Linked DNA regions of Homo sapiens. The protein of the gene in region 1 purifies or fractionates together with the protein of each later gene. This does not show direct contact. Each region holds a gene or a part of one and is shown on either strand. Other genes may lie near its edges.

Region 1 (7,015 bases):
TCTGACATCAAAGAGGCTGTGTGACTCCTGAAACCAGATCTGTGTTCTAATCCTCCACGTTTCTAACATCCACCACAGCCACAAGGCAGGCACGTACTGTTACTGAAAATTAGCTTACAAAATGCCTTTCCTATGCCATAACTTCTCCTGTGCATCTTTGCTTTTCTTTGAACTTGGCATTTCCAGCACATCCATATCGCACAAAATGTCAGCTGCAGGTCAGCAGACGTTACGATGGGGACAAAGCGGATGGAAAAAAGAAGCTTAACTGCTTCTCTGCGGCCTAAAATCCCATCATTACGGGGATCATTCTGAATGGAGGGAGCCCAGCGGGTCAGAACCACCCCGGCTGTGGGCCTGCTCCCGCCAAAGTCAGGAGGGGGGTGTTCATTTCTCCAGGGAGCTAGGGCAGCGTTCTCGCTGGGAGATGGTGCTGGCCTAGAAGAGCACAGGGGAACATCACACACCTGGGACAGTTGTGGGGTGGGGAGAGGGGGGAGGGATAGCATTAGGAGATATACCTAATGCTAAATGACGAGTTAATGGGTGCAGCACACCAACATGGCACATGTATACATATGTAACAAACCTGCACGTTGTGCACATGTACCCTAAAACGTGAAGTATAATAATAATAAAATTAAAAAAAAAAAAAAAGAGCACAGAGAGACAGGGCAGAGCGAGGCGGCGGCGCCCAGCTAGATAGAGCGCGCCTCCTGGCTCGGGCCCGGCCCTCACCTTTGTACTGCAGCGAGTCCTCCGTGTAGGCCAGCATGCTGGGGAAGGTGCTGCTGAGAAACAGGCCCAGGCTTGCCGTCCCCACGAACAGGAAGACGACGTTGTAGGAGAAAATAAGCAGCACCAGGAACGTCACCACCACGCCAACCTGTCGCGGCAGAGGTGGAGGCGGTTAGGAATTGCGAAAAGCTGAGCATCGGTGGTGAGGAACCGCCAGGAGTCGGCGTCTCCTGGCTTGGCGTTTCCTCTCTAGCCCAAGGAGCCCAGCTGTGTGACCCGCGCGCCACCCCGTGGACCAGGCGGGAACCGCAGTGTTCCGGGGACCGTTCTGACATCTGGAAGGAAGCGTGGAAAGGAGACCCCCGCCTAGACATCTTCCCACCTAGACATCTCCCCTAACAGCTACGGTACACGCTGCGTAAGCATTTGGGGACTGAGGACTACCTGTCCCCAAGGTCTTATCTGTAACCGCGGGAACTCCACCCAAGCCAATTTCATCAGCTCTCTCTGCCCTGCCAGCCCTGGGGGTAGGAGAGTCTCTGTTTCTTTGTGAGAAGCTGCTTCTCTTCTCCTGAAAGCCAAGAGTGCACAGACAGGAAGCCATCAGATAGCAGGGGAAGAGGGGTGGTGGCAGCAGGGTCCCATCCTCTGGGAATCCTAGCCAGCCACCCAGGGAGAGGGTCAGTGGCTGTGGCAGTCAGCTTGGCACCCTCAGATTTGGCTCAGATTCCCATGGGCAGATGCTAACCTATGGTTGGAGACCCAGAAATCTTTCTTTTCTTTCCTTTTTTTTTTTTTTTTTTTGAGAGACAGGGTCTCACTCTGTTGCCCAAATTGGAGTGCAGTGGTGCAATCTCAGCTCACTGCAGCCTCGACCTACAGGGCTCAAGCGTTCCTCCCACCTCAGCCTCCTGAGTAGCTGGGACCTCAGGCATGTGCCACCACGCCTGCTAATTTTCTGTATTTTTAGTCGAGAAAGGGTTCGCCATGTTGCCCAGGCTGGTCTTGAACTTCTGGGCTCAAGCAATCCATCTGCCTCAGCTTCCCAAACTGTTGGGATTACAGGCATGAGCCCCCACGCCCAGCCAAATCTTTCTAGTTCAGTAAAGGTCTCTGTCATACAGGCATGTTTTTGTTAATATAACCATATTTCTAAGTTCTTTAAACACGTTTTTATGTCTGCATTGAGTCACTTCTGTGCAAGATGTATCTGGGAATAAACCCAGGCAGCACAAGATTTGGGGTCAGAAGACCCAGGTGGAAGTCCCGATGTGTTTTTTACCAGCTGTGGAACCCAGAAGTAGCTGATTGCTCTGATTCTTAACTTCCTAATCTGCAAAATAGGAATAGTTACAAAAGCCACACTAAAGAGTGGTGGTGAAATAATACAGATGAAGGGGCTCTGTAAACTGTGGTGCTTCAGACAAATATGAGTCCTAGTGTTTCTCTGTGGGCTTTTCTTAGACGTCTCAGGAGATAAGGATCTTCTATAGCAGCCTATGGCTTTGAGGTAAAAATCTCCTGGATGAAGACATCTGTTTCTTTAAAAAGTAAGTACAGACTATAGAGCTAGGCAAGAAATCTCATCCAGCTCCCAACCCCTCCACTTCTGGGCATGCAGAAAGGAAAGACTTTCAGGGTTGGGAGCCGATCCTGGGAGAGTTGCTCCAATTGGAAAATCAAAGCCGGTGCTCCTAATCCTTGAGGCCTTTACGCTCCTCTAGCAGCCCTTCCGTCTCTGCCACAGGATCTGTTAGGTGGAAGGTGGTCTCGAGGCTCAGAGGCCTTACCCAGACAGACTTCCTTCCCTGGGGAGGGATCAGCCACAAAACAGTGGCCGAAGGAGAGAAACACATTCCCTTCAGAATGGAAATGGAAAGACAAAAGACTTCTTTCATGCAGTAAAAATATGAAAGTCATAGCATAACTATGGTTCCAAAGGTCATGTCTTTCTTTGGCACAGAACATGGTCCCTGAGATCCATTTGTTCTTGCTTTCCCCTCTGTTCACTCTCTCAATGTTGGGGTGGCCCAGGATTCTCTTCTGGCTCTTCCATGTCCGCAGTGCCCTGCTCCACGTTTCACCTGCCTCTACAGCAGGCATGCTTGTATCTATCCCTCTAGCCATGAGCTGTGTCCAGGACTCCGGACTTGCACCTAAAGCTGCCCCTTGGATATAGTCAGTCCCTGGATGACTAACCATGTGGCCCAAACTAGACTCTTAATTTCCTCTGCCAATCCTACTCCTGCACACATCAAGTGAGGGCATCCCAGTCATGCAGTTGCTCAAGTCCTGTGTCTAAGGTCCTTGATTCCTCCTTTCCTTACCTCCCACACCTGGGTCAGCAACAAGTCCTGTCCACACCATCTCAAAAAACATGTTCGATCCTTGTACTGCTCCAGATCCATCCAGACCACCCCATCCCAGCCACCTCCCTCTTGCGCCTGGACTACAATAACAGACAGTCTGTGTTTGACTCTTGCCAGCTACAGTCTGTTCTTCCACACTGGAGTGCACTTTTAAAATGCAGTGCAAGTGGCTGGAGATGGTGGCTCCTGTCTAGTTCTACCACTTTGGTAGGCTGAGGCAGGAAGGATCGCTTGGGCCCAGGAGTTCAAGACCAGCCTGGGCAACATAGTGAGACCCTGTCTCTCTAAAAAAAACAATAATAAATTTTAAAAATGCAATGCAAGCTATGTTAGATGGAAATGTGAAACATCACGGGGCACCTGTATAAGTGTCGTTTACTTCATAGCATGAATAAATGTATCTGTGAGATGCAAAAAAATAAAAAGAAAAAAGAAAATGCAACGCAGACCTGCTTAAAACCTATTGGCTTCCTGCCCACTTAGAATAAAATTCAAAGCCCACCTTACAAAACCCTGAGGATGTAGCCCCTGTTTACTTCCCCATCCTCATCTTTTTCTGCTCCCGATCCCCCACCCTGCCTACCGTGCTCCCCCCAAGTTAGCCTCCTAGCCCCTAACCCAGGCCTTTGAACACGGGCCTTTGAACTTCAGCCAGGCCTGCTCACCTCCTGCCTTCAGGGGCTGGCACCTTCTTAATATTCAGTGTTCAACTTAGGAGCCTGGGACAGATGCCGGGGTTTGGAAGCCGCCACTCCTGCTCCTCTTCTTCCACCTGGCTACCCCATGTACAAACCACATGCATTTCCAGCCATGCCTCAAAGACCGTCACCCTGAAAATCCCTAAATTTGGGGAAGTTTGAAAGACACCCGAGTCTTATTTTAGCCTTGGTGATAGAAGACTAACCAGGACGAACTATCAGCTCCACCAACTCTCTTCCCACGCAGTGTGGCCCCTGCCTCAGCCAGTGACTCAGTCTGGTACTGAGCCTGCATCCCCACTGCCTACACCCTCACCCTCCATCTGTGCTGGGGCACACTGCCCTCCTCTGGCCGGCCGTAAGCTCCCTGGAAGCAAGAACCTTGTCTTCCAGAACTTGGCGGCCTGCAGTTTGCAGCAGGGCTTTGCACATAGCACAAACATACTAAGTCAGGAAGTAGCTGTTGAGCTCCAGGAGAATGCTGAGAACAGGGTGGCCATTAATTTAACCTAGAGAGGAATACTCGGAAGTAGTCACAGTGAATATGACACAGGCACTTCACATCTACACAGGAGAGGCTTGCTCAGGGCCACTCAGCTGCAGTTCCCAAACAGGGTGCCCACAAAAGCAGCTGGAAAGCTTCCAAAACAACCCAGAGGCCCAGGCTCTTCTCCATACCTCCTAAATTAGAATCTCTGGGGTAGGGGTCCATGATCCTATTTTCTCTTTCTTTTTTTTTTTTTTTTTTTTTGATTTGAAGTCTTGCTCTGTCTCTCAGGCTGGAGGGCAGTGGCACCATTTCAGCTCACTGCAACCTCTGCCTGCTAGGTTCAAGTGATTCTCCTGCCTCAGCCTCCTGAGTAGTTGGGATTACAGGCAGGCGCCACCACGCCCGGCTAATTTTTGTATTTTTAGTAGAGATGGGGTATCACCATGTTGGTCAGGCTGGTCTCGAACTCCTGACCTCATGATCCACCCGCCTCGGCCTCCCAAAGTTCTGGGATTACAGGTGTGAGCCACCGCGCCTGGCCTTTTCATGATCCTATTTTCAAAAAGCAGCTCCAGTGAATCTAATGTATTTGGGAGTCACTTGTTCTAGGACAGTGTTTTCCTGAGCTTGCTGGATGATGTAATTCCCCTGGGGTATTTGTTTAATTTATAGATTGCTATGCCTCCTCCTGGACATTCGGATTCACTCAGTCTGGGTTGGGCCCAGGAACCTGATTTTCCTTTTTAAAACCCAGCACTCCAGGTGAGTGTCTATGGGCAATGCCTAACATATGTGGATGCTTCAGACCTTTATTTTCCCAAACCCAGATTTCCACCCACTCTCCTCTGTCTTAGCAATTGGCCTTGTGTCTGACCTAGACAGGGAAGCCAGGGCTGGCCCCATGTCTGTGCCCTTCCTCTTCTGGAACCTTTCCCCTTTGACATCGTTTCGCCCCAACTCCATGGACAGGGGCCTTCCTCCTTGCTGAGCTTAGAGCCTCCTCCACTCCCGCTCTCCATCCCACCTCCCCTCTGTCAGGGCCTTCCTCACTCGGTTACTCTCTCACAATGGTATTTTCACAGACTCCTCCTCCTAATAGGTGTCCTCCCTTTATCCTCTACTATAAGCAGGCCCATACCACCCTGAGTCCTGCAGAACACAACTCCCTTCAACTCAAAAATATTTACAAAGAGAAATGCAAATTCCTCCACTGCTCATCTCCCTCTCACCCTCAACCTCTTGCGTTTGGGTTTATCACCTACCTCCCATCTACATTGAACTGAAATTTCTTTCTTGGGGGTCAACTGGCACGAGGTCAAATCCAAAGGCCTTTCTTGGGGATCATGATCTTTGTCTCTGAAACTGCAACCTTATGTCCAAACCCGCTCTCTGCTAGAAATTCAACCAAGGAAATGCTTTCTTACCTGGACTTAGTACCCTCATTGGGCTACTTGGAAAGGTAGTGAGTTGCAGTTACTAGAGGTGTTTAAGCAGACAGTGAACCCCTTGGAAGGGATGTTATAGATAGAGGTGGCTCAAGCCTGATGGGAGGTTGGACTAGACAATTTGGCAGAAGTCTGTAATGTGGACCCCTGTGTCATGGATGGTGACCTGGATGGACACACCAAGGCAAGGGTCTTAACCCACTGCTCAGGCCCAGACCTCCTGCCTCCTAGGCAGATCAGTTCCTTGAAGGTCATCCTCCATGTCCTGCCTACTTAAGAATCACCTAGCGCTAGGCAGAGTGGCTTACTCCTGTAATCCCAGCACTTTGGGAGGCCGAGGCGGGTGGATCATTAAGAGGTCAGGAGTTCAAGACCAGCCTGGCCAACGTGGTGAAACCCCATCACCATTAAAAATACAAAAATTAGCCAGGCATGGTGGTAGGCACCTGTCATCCCAGTTACTTGGGAGGCTGAGGCAGGAGAATCACTTGAACCTGGGAGACAGAGGTTGCAGTGAGCTGAGATCACACCACTGTGCTCCATCCTGGGTGACAAAGGGAGACCCTATCTCAAAAAAAAAAAAAAAGAGTCACCTAGGAGAGCTACCAAATGCAAATCCCCAGGCCCCAGCCCAGAGGCAGTGATTCCGACGGTTGTGGGATCCCTGGCCTCCACAGCTTTCCACTGACTGGAGGGCTCTGAGCAGCTGGGCACCAAGGTAAACACAGGAGGACCAGGGCCAGCACTGGCTTTCCTCACGCTCATAGCCAGTTGTTGGCTGGGATGGGCTCCACACACTGCAGCCAGCACCTCCTACAGACCTTTCCTTTTATGTTTTAAGGGTATAAGATCAGCAGCCCAGAGAGGGGAAGGGACTTTTCATGGTCACCCAGGTAGGCTCCACCTCCCAGGCTCCCACCCCTTCCTCGTCATCCTCTCTCTCCTCTCTTCCCTCTACTCCTGAGTTCCCATCCTGCTGGCAGAATGTAGGCCTGGGCAAACGTCCTGGGGTAGGGCCAGGAGGAGGCGGCTTCTCCTGGGTCTCTCAGAAGAGAGAGGAGGCTATTCAGCTGCTTACCACGTTGATGAAAACCATGGTGGCCGGCTTCATTCTTGAGGATATGGGAATGGAGAGGAGCCGGCCCAGTGTGATGAAGCCCCAGAAGAGGCTGGGGAGGTAGCCAGCCACCTTGTGTCCCACAGACAGGGGCTTCTCCACAGCATAGCTGTACACGAAGGCGGAATAGGCACCCTGTGGAGAGACCGGGCGCTGTT
Region 2 (7,948 bases), on another chromosome or scaffold:
CGTATGTTCTTACTCAAAAGTGGGAGCTAAGCTATGAGGATGCAAAGGCATAAGAATGACATAATAGGCTGGGCGCAGTGGCTCATGCCTGTAATCCCAACACTTTGGGAGGCCGAGGCGGGTGGATCACGAGGCCAGGAGATTGAGACCATCCTGGCTAACACGGTGAAACCCTGTCTCTACTAAAAATATAAAAAATTAGCCGGGCATAGTGGCAGGTGCCTATAGTCCCAGCTACTCAGGAGGCTGAAGCAGGAGAATGGTGTGAACCCGGGAGGCAGAGCTTGCAGTGAGCTGAGATCATGCCACTGCACTCCAGCCTGGGTGACAGAGCGAGACTCTGTCTCAAAAAAATAAATAAGCAAATAAATAAAAAAGAATGATACAATAGGCTGGGTGCAGTGGCTCACACCTGTAATCCCAGCACTTTGGGAGGCTGAGGCAGGCAGATCACTTGAGGTCAGGAGTTCAAGACCAGCCCGGTCAACATGGCGAAACCGCATCTCTACTAAAAATATGAGAGTTTGCCGGGCGTGGTGGCATGTGCCTATAGTCCCAGCTACTCAGGAGGCTGAGGCAGGAGAATTGCTTGAGACCAGGAGGCAGAGGCCGCAGTGAGTTGAGATTGCACCACTGCACTCCAGCCTGGGCAACAGAGCATAACCCTGTCTCAAAAATAAAAATAAAAAATAAACATGCACTTACCATATGACCCAGCAATTGTACTCTTGGGCACTTATCCTAGAGAAACAAAAACAGGTTCACACAAAAGGCTGTACACTCATGTTCACAGCTGCTTGATTCACAATAGCTAAAAACTAGAAACAACTCAAATGTCCTTCAATGAGTGAACAGTTGAATGTACTTGTATTAGTCCATTTTCACACTGCTGATAAAGACATACCCGAGACCGAGAAGAAAAAGAGGTTTAATGGACTTACAGTTCCACATGGCTGGGGAGGCCTCACAATCATGGTGGAAGGCAAGGAGGAGCAAGTCACATCTTACATGGATGGCAGCATGCAAAGAAAGAACTTGTGCAGGGAAACCTCCCGTTTTTAAAACCATCACATCTTGTGAGGCTCATTCACTATCTGGAGAACAGCACAGGAAGGACCTGCCTCCATAATTCAATCACCTCCCACCTGGTTCCTCCCACAACACATGGGAATGGTGAGTTACAATTCAAGATGAGATTTGGGTGGGGACACAGCCAAACCATATCAATACTGTAGTACATCTACATTATGGAATACCACTCAGTAATAAAAAGGAAGGAACTACTGATACATGTAACAGTTTGGATATATCTCAAGGGATTATGCTGAATGAAAAAGAGTCAATAAAAGTTACATACTGTATAATTACAATAATTACATTTATGTAACATTCTTGATATAACAAAATTTTAGAAACAGAGAATAGATTGGGTGGGGCTGCAAAGGTAAGTTGTGGTTATAAAAGGGCAACTGGAGGGACCCTTGTGGTGATGGACCTGGGCTGTACCTTGACTGTGGTGGTGGATACAAGAATCTACACACCTGATAACCATATAGAACTAAATATACACAGAGAACACTAATACAAAATGAGGAATCTGAATGAGATCAATGGATTGTGTGAATGTCAATTACCTGGTTGTGATATGGTACTAGTTTTGCAAGATGCTACCACTGGGAAGACTGGGTAAAGGGTACACAGAATCTCTATTCTTACAATTGCATGGAAATCCACAATTACCTCACAAAGTTGAATAACCATCTCTTTTTTTCATCTGTGATGGAACAAGCAGGCAATATTCTACATTGTTTTAACAAATAAAGCAAACTATGTACCACTGTTCTGGTGGTAAAACCCTTTAACCATAATAAATGTCATCACGTAGCAAATGCTTCACTGTGCTAAACACCTGCTGACCTTATCTCGTGTAATCCGCTCAACGGCCCTAAGACTAGGGAGACACTGCTATCATTCCTAGTTCACTGAGGAGGGTCTGAGGCAAAGAGGTGAAGTGATTTCCTGGAGCTACCTGACCAAAGACTGGAACCAAGATTCTTAGAGGCACACGAAGTCCTTCTGGTAATAAATCTGTATAATTCTATTTGTTATGTTCAGCTGTCCTAACCCTAAAAATTAAAAACTGCCATCAAGCATACAGAATGAGTGTTAGCAACACCGGCACAGTGACAATTTTAAAGAGTTAGAAGGTCCTTTAGAGATTACACAGCCCATCGCCCTCATTTTTACATAAAGGGAATCAGGTGAAGTGACCTGCACAGGTGAGTCGCTGCTCAGAGACCGCACAGCACATTTAAAACTGTATCTCGGTTCAGTACTCAAGAAAAGGACACAGACTTATAAATGGTGGCAAAAACCGAGCTGTCTGGTTCTTCCGGTACCCAGTGCCGGGTCGAGTACAGAGCAGGCGCTCCATATTTACAAGACGAATCAATGACTGAATGAATAGCACCGCCAGGAGCCCCATAAAAGAAGTCCAGAAGACTGCGGGCTGTCAGTCTTCGCTGTGACAAAGAGCCTCCGTGAGGAGCGAGGATTAGGGCCGGACAGGGAGCGCCCTTCTAGTGGACGCTCGACTGGGCTGGGGCCGGGATGGAGACGGTGGGTGCCCAGGCCCTCCGTCTACCGCGGGCCGCGTGCGGGGCCGAGCGAGGACCCGGCTGGAGCTGGAGCGGGGGCGGGGCGGGGGCGGGGCCGAGGGCGAGCCGGAAGAAAGAAGCCGCAGGGCCCGCCCAAACAAGAATTTTCACCGTAATCCCGCCCAGAGTTTCTCCCACGGCCCCATGTCCGCATGGCGGTGAAGGTCGAAGACGCGCGACCCAAAGGGCCAGGTTTTCAGTCAGCCCAGCGTTGGCGACGGGCGAGGGCAGAACACAACCACCACCCTAGTCCCGCCCGGCTCGGGGCCTAGCTTCTCTACTCACAGCGTCGGAGGGAGGGAGGGAGGGAGCGAGCCAGCGTCCCCGCGTCTGCGGCACCCTGGCCGGCCCTTCGCCCTCCGACGCGCGCGCCTATTGGCCACCGCAGCCTCTCCCACATGGGGCGAAGGCGCGCCACTTCATTGGCCCCCGCGTGAGGGGCGGGGCTAAAGAGCGCGGGTCCTCGGCCGTGGAGGGTCAAGTGGCTTCTTCTGAGCGCTGAGGGAGGGGAGCGTGCGTAGGGGATGGTGCCAGCGCTGCGTTATTTGGTTGGTGCCTGCGGACGGGCCCGCGGGCTTTTCGCCGGTGGCTCCCCTGGGGCGTGCGGGTTCGCGTCTGGGAGGCCAAGACCGCTGTGTGGAGGTAGCCGCAGCGCCAGCACCAGGTGAGTGGCCGCTGGTCCTCCCCGCCGCCTGCGCTGCTGCCCCTCGCGGAGGCACCTGGTGGTGGACCTGTGCCCCTGTTCGTATTTCCCTGTCCCGGGGTGAGAGCAGGTTGGGGTCCTGTGGCACTCCAACCTCGGATCCCAGGAGCTACCAACCTGCAGGTTCATTCGTTGTATTTACGGGCCGGAGGAAAGGCAGTGTATAGAGTAGAGGTCGGGAGTAGCTCTGGCTTTGAACAACCCGTCCACTTTCTGTTGAACTCTGGGCTAGTTACTTAACCTCCTTAAAGGCTCAGTTGTGAATTGGACCTTAGTCTCTCCTGTAGGTGGTCATTTGAAGGATAAAAGGACCTAGCACACAGTATAAGCAATCAAATATGCTCTTTATAAGCTGGAGTCTTTGGCGTTGCTTGGAAGATCTGAATACAGTCTTAAATCAGTTCCTGGCACACCCCGCATAGTGTTGCCCCCGTCGGAGGCAGCTCTTATGCTAATGAAAGCCCGCAGAATTCAGTGTCCTGTGATTTATAGTTTGGACGTCACATTCGAAACCATTGTCTTTCTCTGTCCTCTGTAGAAGAAACAGTTTGTGTGAAGGCTGTAAGGCTTGGAGAGGTTTTGGCTATTTTGACGACTAGAAGGTGGGCCATATGAGTGTGACTGAAGTTTAGTGGAAGACATATGGTGTGGAATGACCCAGAAGGACTACATCACAGCAAGGTTTTTAGTTTATTTTAACCACACGTTGACTTTTATTCTAAGAGCCACGGGAAGCTATTTAAAAGGGTTTTAAGAAGAGGCTACGCTTTAGGAGGCCGAGGCGGGCGGATCGCCTGAGGTCAGAAGTTGGAGACCAGCCTAACCAACATGGTGAAACCCCGTCTCTACTAAAAATACAAAAAAATTAGCCTGGCGTGGTGGTGGGCGCCTGTAATCCCAACTACTCCGGAGCCTTAGGAGAATCGCTTGAACCTGGGAGGCGGAGATTGCAGTAAGCTGAGATCGCACCATTGCACTCCAGCCTGGGCGACAGAGCAAGACTCTGTCTCGCAAAAAAAAAAAAAAAAAAAAAAAGAAAAGAAAAGAAAAAAAGAAGAGGCTAATAATTAAATGTTGATGTTCTAAAAGTTGACTCTGGCTGCTGCGTGTTGGTGGATAGGGGGAGTAGAGTGGGATACCAGTAATAGCGATTGTGATTTGTTATGGGGCATGTGGACAGTTCTTTTGGGAAGCTTTTCTTAAGGAAAGAAAAGTAGGGCTAGTGAAAGTTTTGTTTATACTTAAAATGTTTTTTTAAAAAATTTTTGGAGTCAGGGTCTCACTGTGTTGCCAAGGCTGGAGTGCAGTGGCACAATCATAGCTCACTGCAGCCTCCACCCTCCTGGGCTCAAGCGATCCTCCCTCCTCAGCCCCCCTCCCCAATGCTTCCTGTCCTCCAGGAGCTGGGACCACAGGCAGCTAATTATTTTCCTATTTTTTTGTAGAGACGTTGCCCAGGGTGGTCTCGAACCCCTGGCCTCAAGTGAACCTCCCTCTTCAGCCACCCAAAGTGCTGAGATTACAGGTGTGAGCCACCGTGCCTGGCCTATACTTTTATTTTGAAGTAATTATAGATCCATTGGAAATTGCAAAAATAGTACAGGCCAAGCGTGGTGACTCAGGCCTGTAATCCCAGTGCTTTGGGAGGCTGAGGCAGGAGGATCACTTGAGCCCAGAAGTTTGAGACCAGCCTGGGCAAAATATAAGATCCCTTCTCTACAAAATAAAAAATAAAAATAAATAAACAGTACAAAGAGATCCCATGTACCCTTCACCCCATTTACCCCAATGAAAACATCTTATATAACTATAGTACAATATCAAAACTAGGAAATTGATATTGGCAAAATCCACGGACATTGTTCAGCTTTCATCAGTTTTACATATATTCGTGTGTGTGTGTGTGTTTAGTTCTATGCAGTTTAATCATATGTATTAATTTGTGTAACTACCACCTCAATTAAGATATGAAAATGTGGCCAGGCATGCTGGCTCATGCCTATAATCTCAGCACTTTGGGAGGCCGAGGTGGGAGGATAGGTTGAGCCTCAGAGTTGGAGACCAGCCTGGGCAACAAAGGGAGACGGCAAAACCCCTGCTCTACAAAAAAATTAAAAAATAATTAGCCAGGTGTGGTGGCTTGCTCCTGTAGTCCCAGCCACTTGTGGGGCTGAGGCAGGAGGATCGCTTGAGCCCAGGAGGTTGAAGGTGTGGTGACCTGTGATTACACCGCCGCGCTGAAGCCTGGACAACAGAGCAAGACTCTCTTAAAAAAAAAAAAAAGGGTGGTATAAAAATATTCTATTGCCACAAGGTTATCTGTTGTGTTACCTATCTCTTTATATTCACACCTTCCTCTCCATTCTTCCTAACTCTTGGCAACTGTGAATCTAAATTTTTTTTTTTTTTTAACACGAAGTCTCGCTTTGTCACCCAGGCTGGAGTACAGTGGCATGATCTTGGCTCACTGCAACCTCTGTCTCCTAGGTTGAAGGGATTCTCCTGCCTCAGCCTCCTGAGTAGCTGGGATTACAGGCATGTGCCACCACGCCCAGCTGATTTTGTATTTTGAGTAGAGATAGGGTTTCACCGTGTTGGCCAGGCTGGTCTCAAACTCCTGACCTCAGGTGATCCACCCGCCTCAGCCTCCCAAAGTATTGGGATTACAGGCATGAGCCACTGCACCCGGCCTGAAATTTTTTATATCACCAAATATTCAGTATAAAACTTTTAGAAAAAGGACAAGATCTTTGGACATAGAGATGACATCAAAAGCATGATCTCTAAAAGAAAAAAATTGACAAAATGGACTTCATCAAAATGAAAAACTTTTGCTCTGCAAAAGACTGTTAAGAGAATGAAAAAACTACCAAGACGTGGGAAAAAAATACCAGCAACTGCATATCTCCCAAAGGACTAATACACAAAATACATAAAGAACTCTCAAAACAAGCCTTTGGAGATTGGCTTTTTTTCACACAGCATACTATCCTTAAGATCCATGCAAGGCGTCGCCTGTATTGATAGCAGGTTTTTCAAAATTGTTGAATAGAATTCCATGGTATGGATACATCACAATTTGTTTAACCGTTTACCATGGGTTGAAGAACATCCAAGCTGCTTCCAGTTTTTGGCTATTACGAATAAAGCTACTATGAACATTCATGTTCAGGTTTTTGTATGAACATAAGTTTCATTTCTCTGGAATAAATGCCCAAGACTGCAGTTACTGAGTCATGTAGTAAGTCCATGTTTAGTTTCTTTTTAAGAAACTGCCATACTCTTTTCCAGAGTGGCTGTACTATTTTACATTCCCACCAGCTATGTGTGAGTAATCCAGTTTCCCTTCATTCTCACCAGCATTTGGGGTGATCACTTTTTAAATTTTAGCCATTCTGATAGAGACGTAGTGATATCTCATTGTGGTTTTTATTTACATTTCTCTGATGCAATGATGTTTGAACAATGCATTGACTAATGGTGTTGAACATCTTTTCATGTGCTTCTTTGCCATCTGTGTATCTGTCCTCTTTGATGAAATATTTGTTCATATCTTTTGCCCACTTTTTTTTTTTTTTTTTTTCTGAGATGGAGTTTCGCCTTGTTGCCCAGGCTGGAGCGCAGTGGCGCGGTCTCGGCTCACCGCAGAGGCCTCCTGGGTTCAAGCAATTCTCCTGCCTCAGCCTCCCGAGTAGCTGGGATTACAGGCATGCGCCACCATGCCCAGCCAATTTTGTCTTTTTAGTAGAGATGGGGTTTCTCCATGTTGGCATGGCTGGTCTCAAACTCCTGACGTCAGGTGATCCGCCCGCCTTGGCCTCCCAAAGTGCTGGGATTAAAGGCGTGAGCCATCGCACCCGGCCTGCCTACGTTCTAAATGGCTTGTTTTGAGAGTTCTTTTATGTATGAGTCCTTTGGGAGATATGCAGTTACTAGTATTTTTTTCCAATTTCTTAGTTTTTTTATCCTCTTAACAGAGTCTTTTTGCAGAGCAAAAGTTTTATGTTTTGATGAAGTCCATTTTATCAGTTTTTTTTCTTTTATGGATCATGTTTTTGATGTCAACTCTAAGTCCCAAGATTTTGTCCTATTTTTTCCTAAAAGTTTTAAAGTGAATATTAGGTGATGTAAAAAATTTTGTGTTAGTTTTTTTAACTATAATGGTAGTGTGTGTTTTTAGAGATGCCTTTTAGAAATAACATTGAAATATTTACAGATGAAATAATGTGGTGTTTAAGATTTGCATCAAAATAATATAATACAGGAGGGGATGAAATAGAGTATAGAAGAAGCAAGATTTGCTGTGAGTTGATAATTAGTGAAGCTGGGTGATGTATATGTGGGGCTTCATTGAACTATTTTGTCTAACTTTGTGTAGGTATGAACTTTTCCATAAAAAGCTTAAGAAAATTATCTGTTAAACCATTCATTGGTGTTAACTTGAGATTAAGTGAGTTGTAGAGAAAGATGTCTCTTTCAGCCTCCGTGGTTAGCTTGGCCTGCAACTGTCCTCCAGCATTCATCTATGACTATTGTTCTGTTCACCTGTCTCCATAGTGGATGCTTGGAGATTTGTGCTTTTGTTTGT

What was found. Proteins that work in one complex are often made in the same cells at the same time.
Region 2: the proteins of SLC60A1 (region 1) and DMAC2L purify together in Homo sapiens (affinity purification with mass spectrometry; 2 studies listed by BioGRID and IntAct, with this or other methods). This does not show direct contact.

What each region holds. Positions count from the first base shown.
Region 1 is NC_000001.11:205,586,011-205,593,025, reverse strand, and holds part of SLC60A1 (major facilitator superfamily domain-containing protein 4A), read right to left. Parts: intron 6,993-7,015; coding exon 6,819-6,992; intron 1,157-6,818; exon of another isoform or gene 887-1,156; coding exon 739-886; intron 1-738.
Region 2 is NC_000014.9:50,307,384-50,315,331, reverse strand, and holds the start of DMAC2L (ATP synthase subunit s, mitochondrial isoform a precursor), read right to left. Parts: upstream 3,009-7,948; 5' UTR 2,943-3,008; exon of another isoform or gene 1,069-2,942; coding exon of another isoform or gene 942-1,068; intron 874-941; exon of another isoform or gene 742-873; 5' UTR 706-741; intron 1-705. Other genes in the region: L2HGDH (L-2-hydroxyglutarate dehydrogenase, mitochondrial), read left to right, coding at 3,182-3,321. UniProt on the Homo sapiens protein: Involved in regulation of mitochondrial membrane ATP synthase. Necessary for H(+) conduction of ATP synthase. Facilitates energy-driven catalysis of ATP synthesis by blocking a proton leak through an alternative proton exit pathway.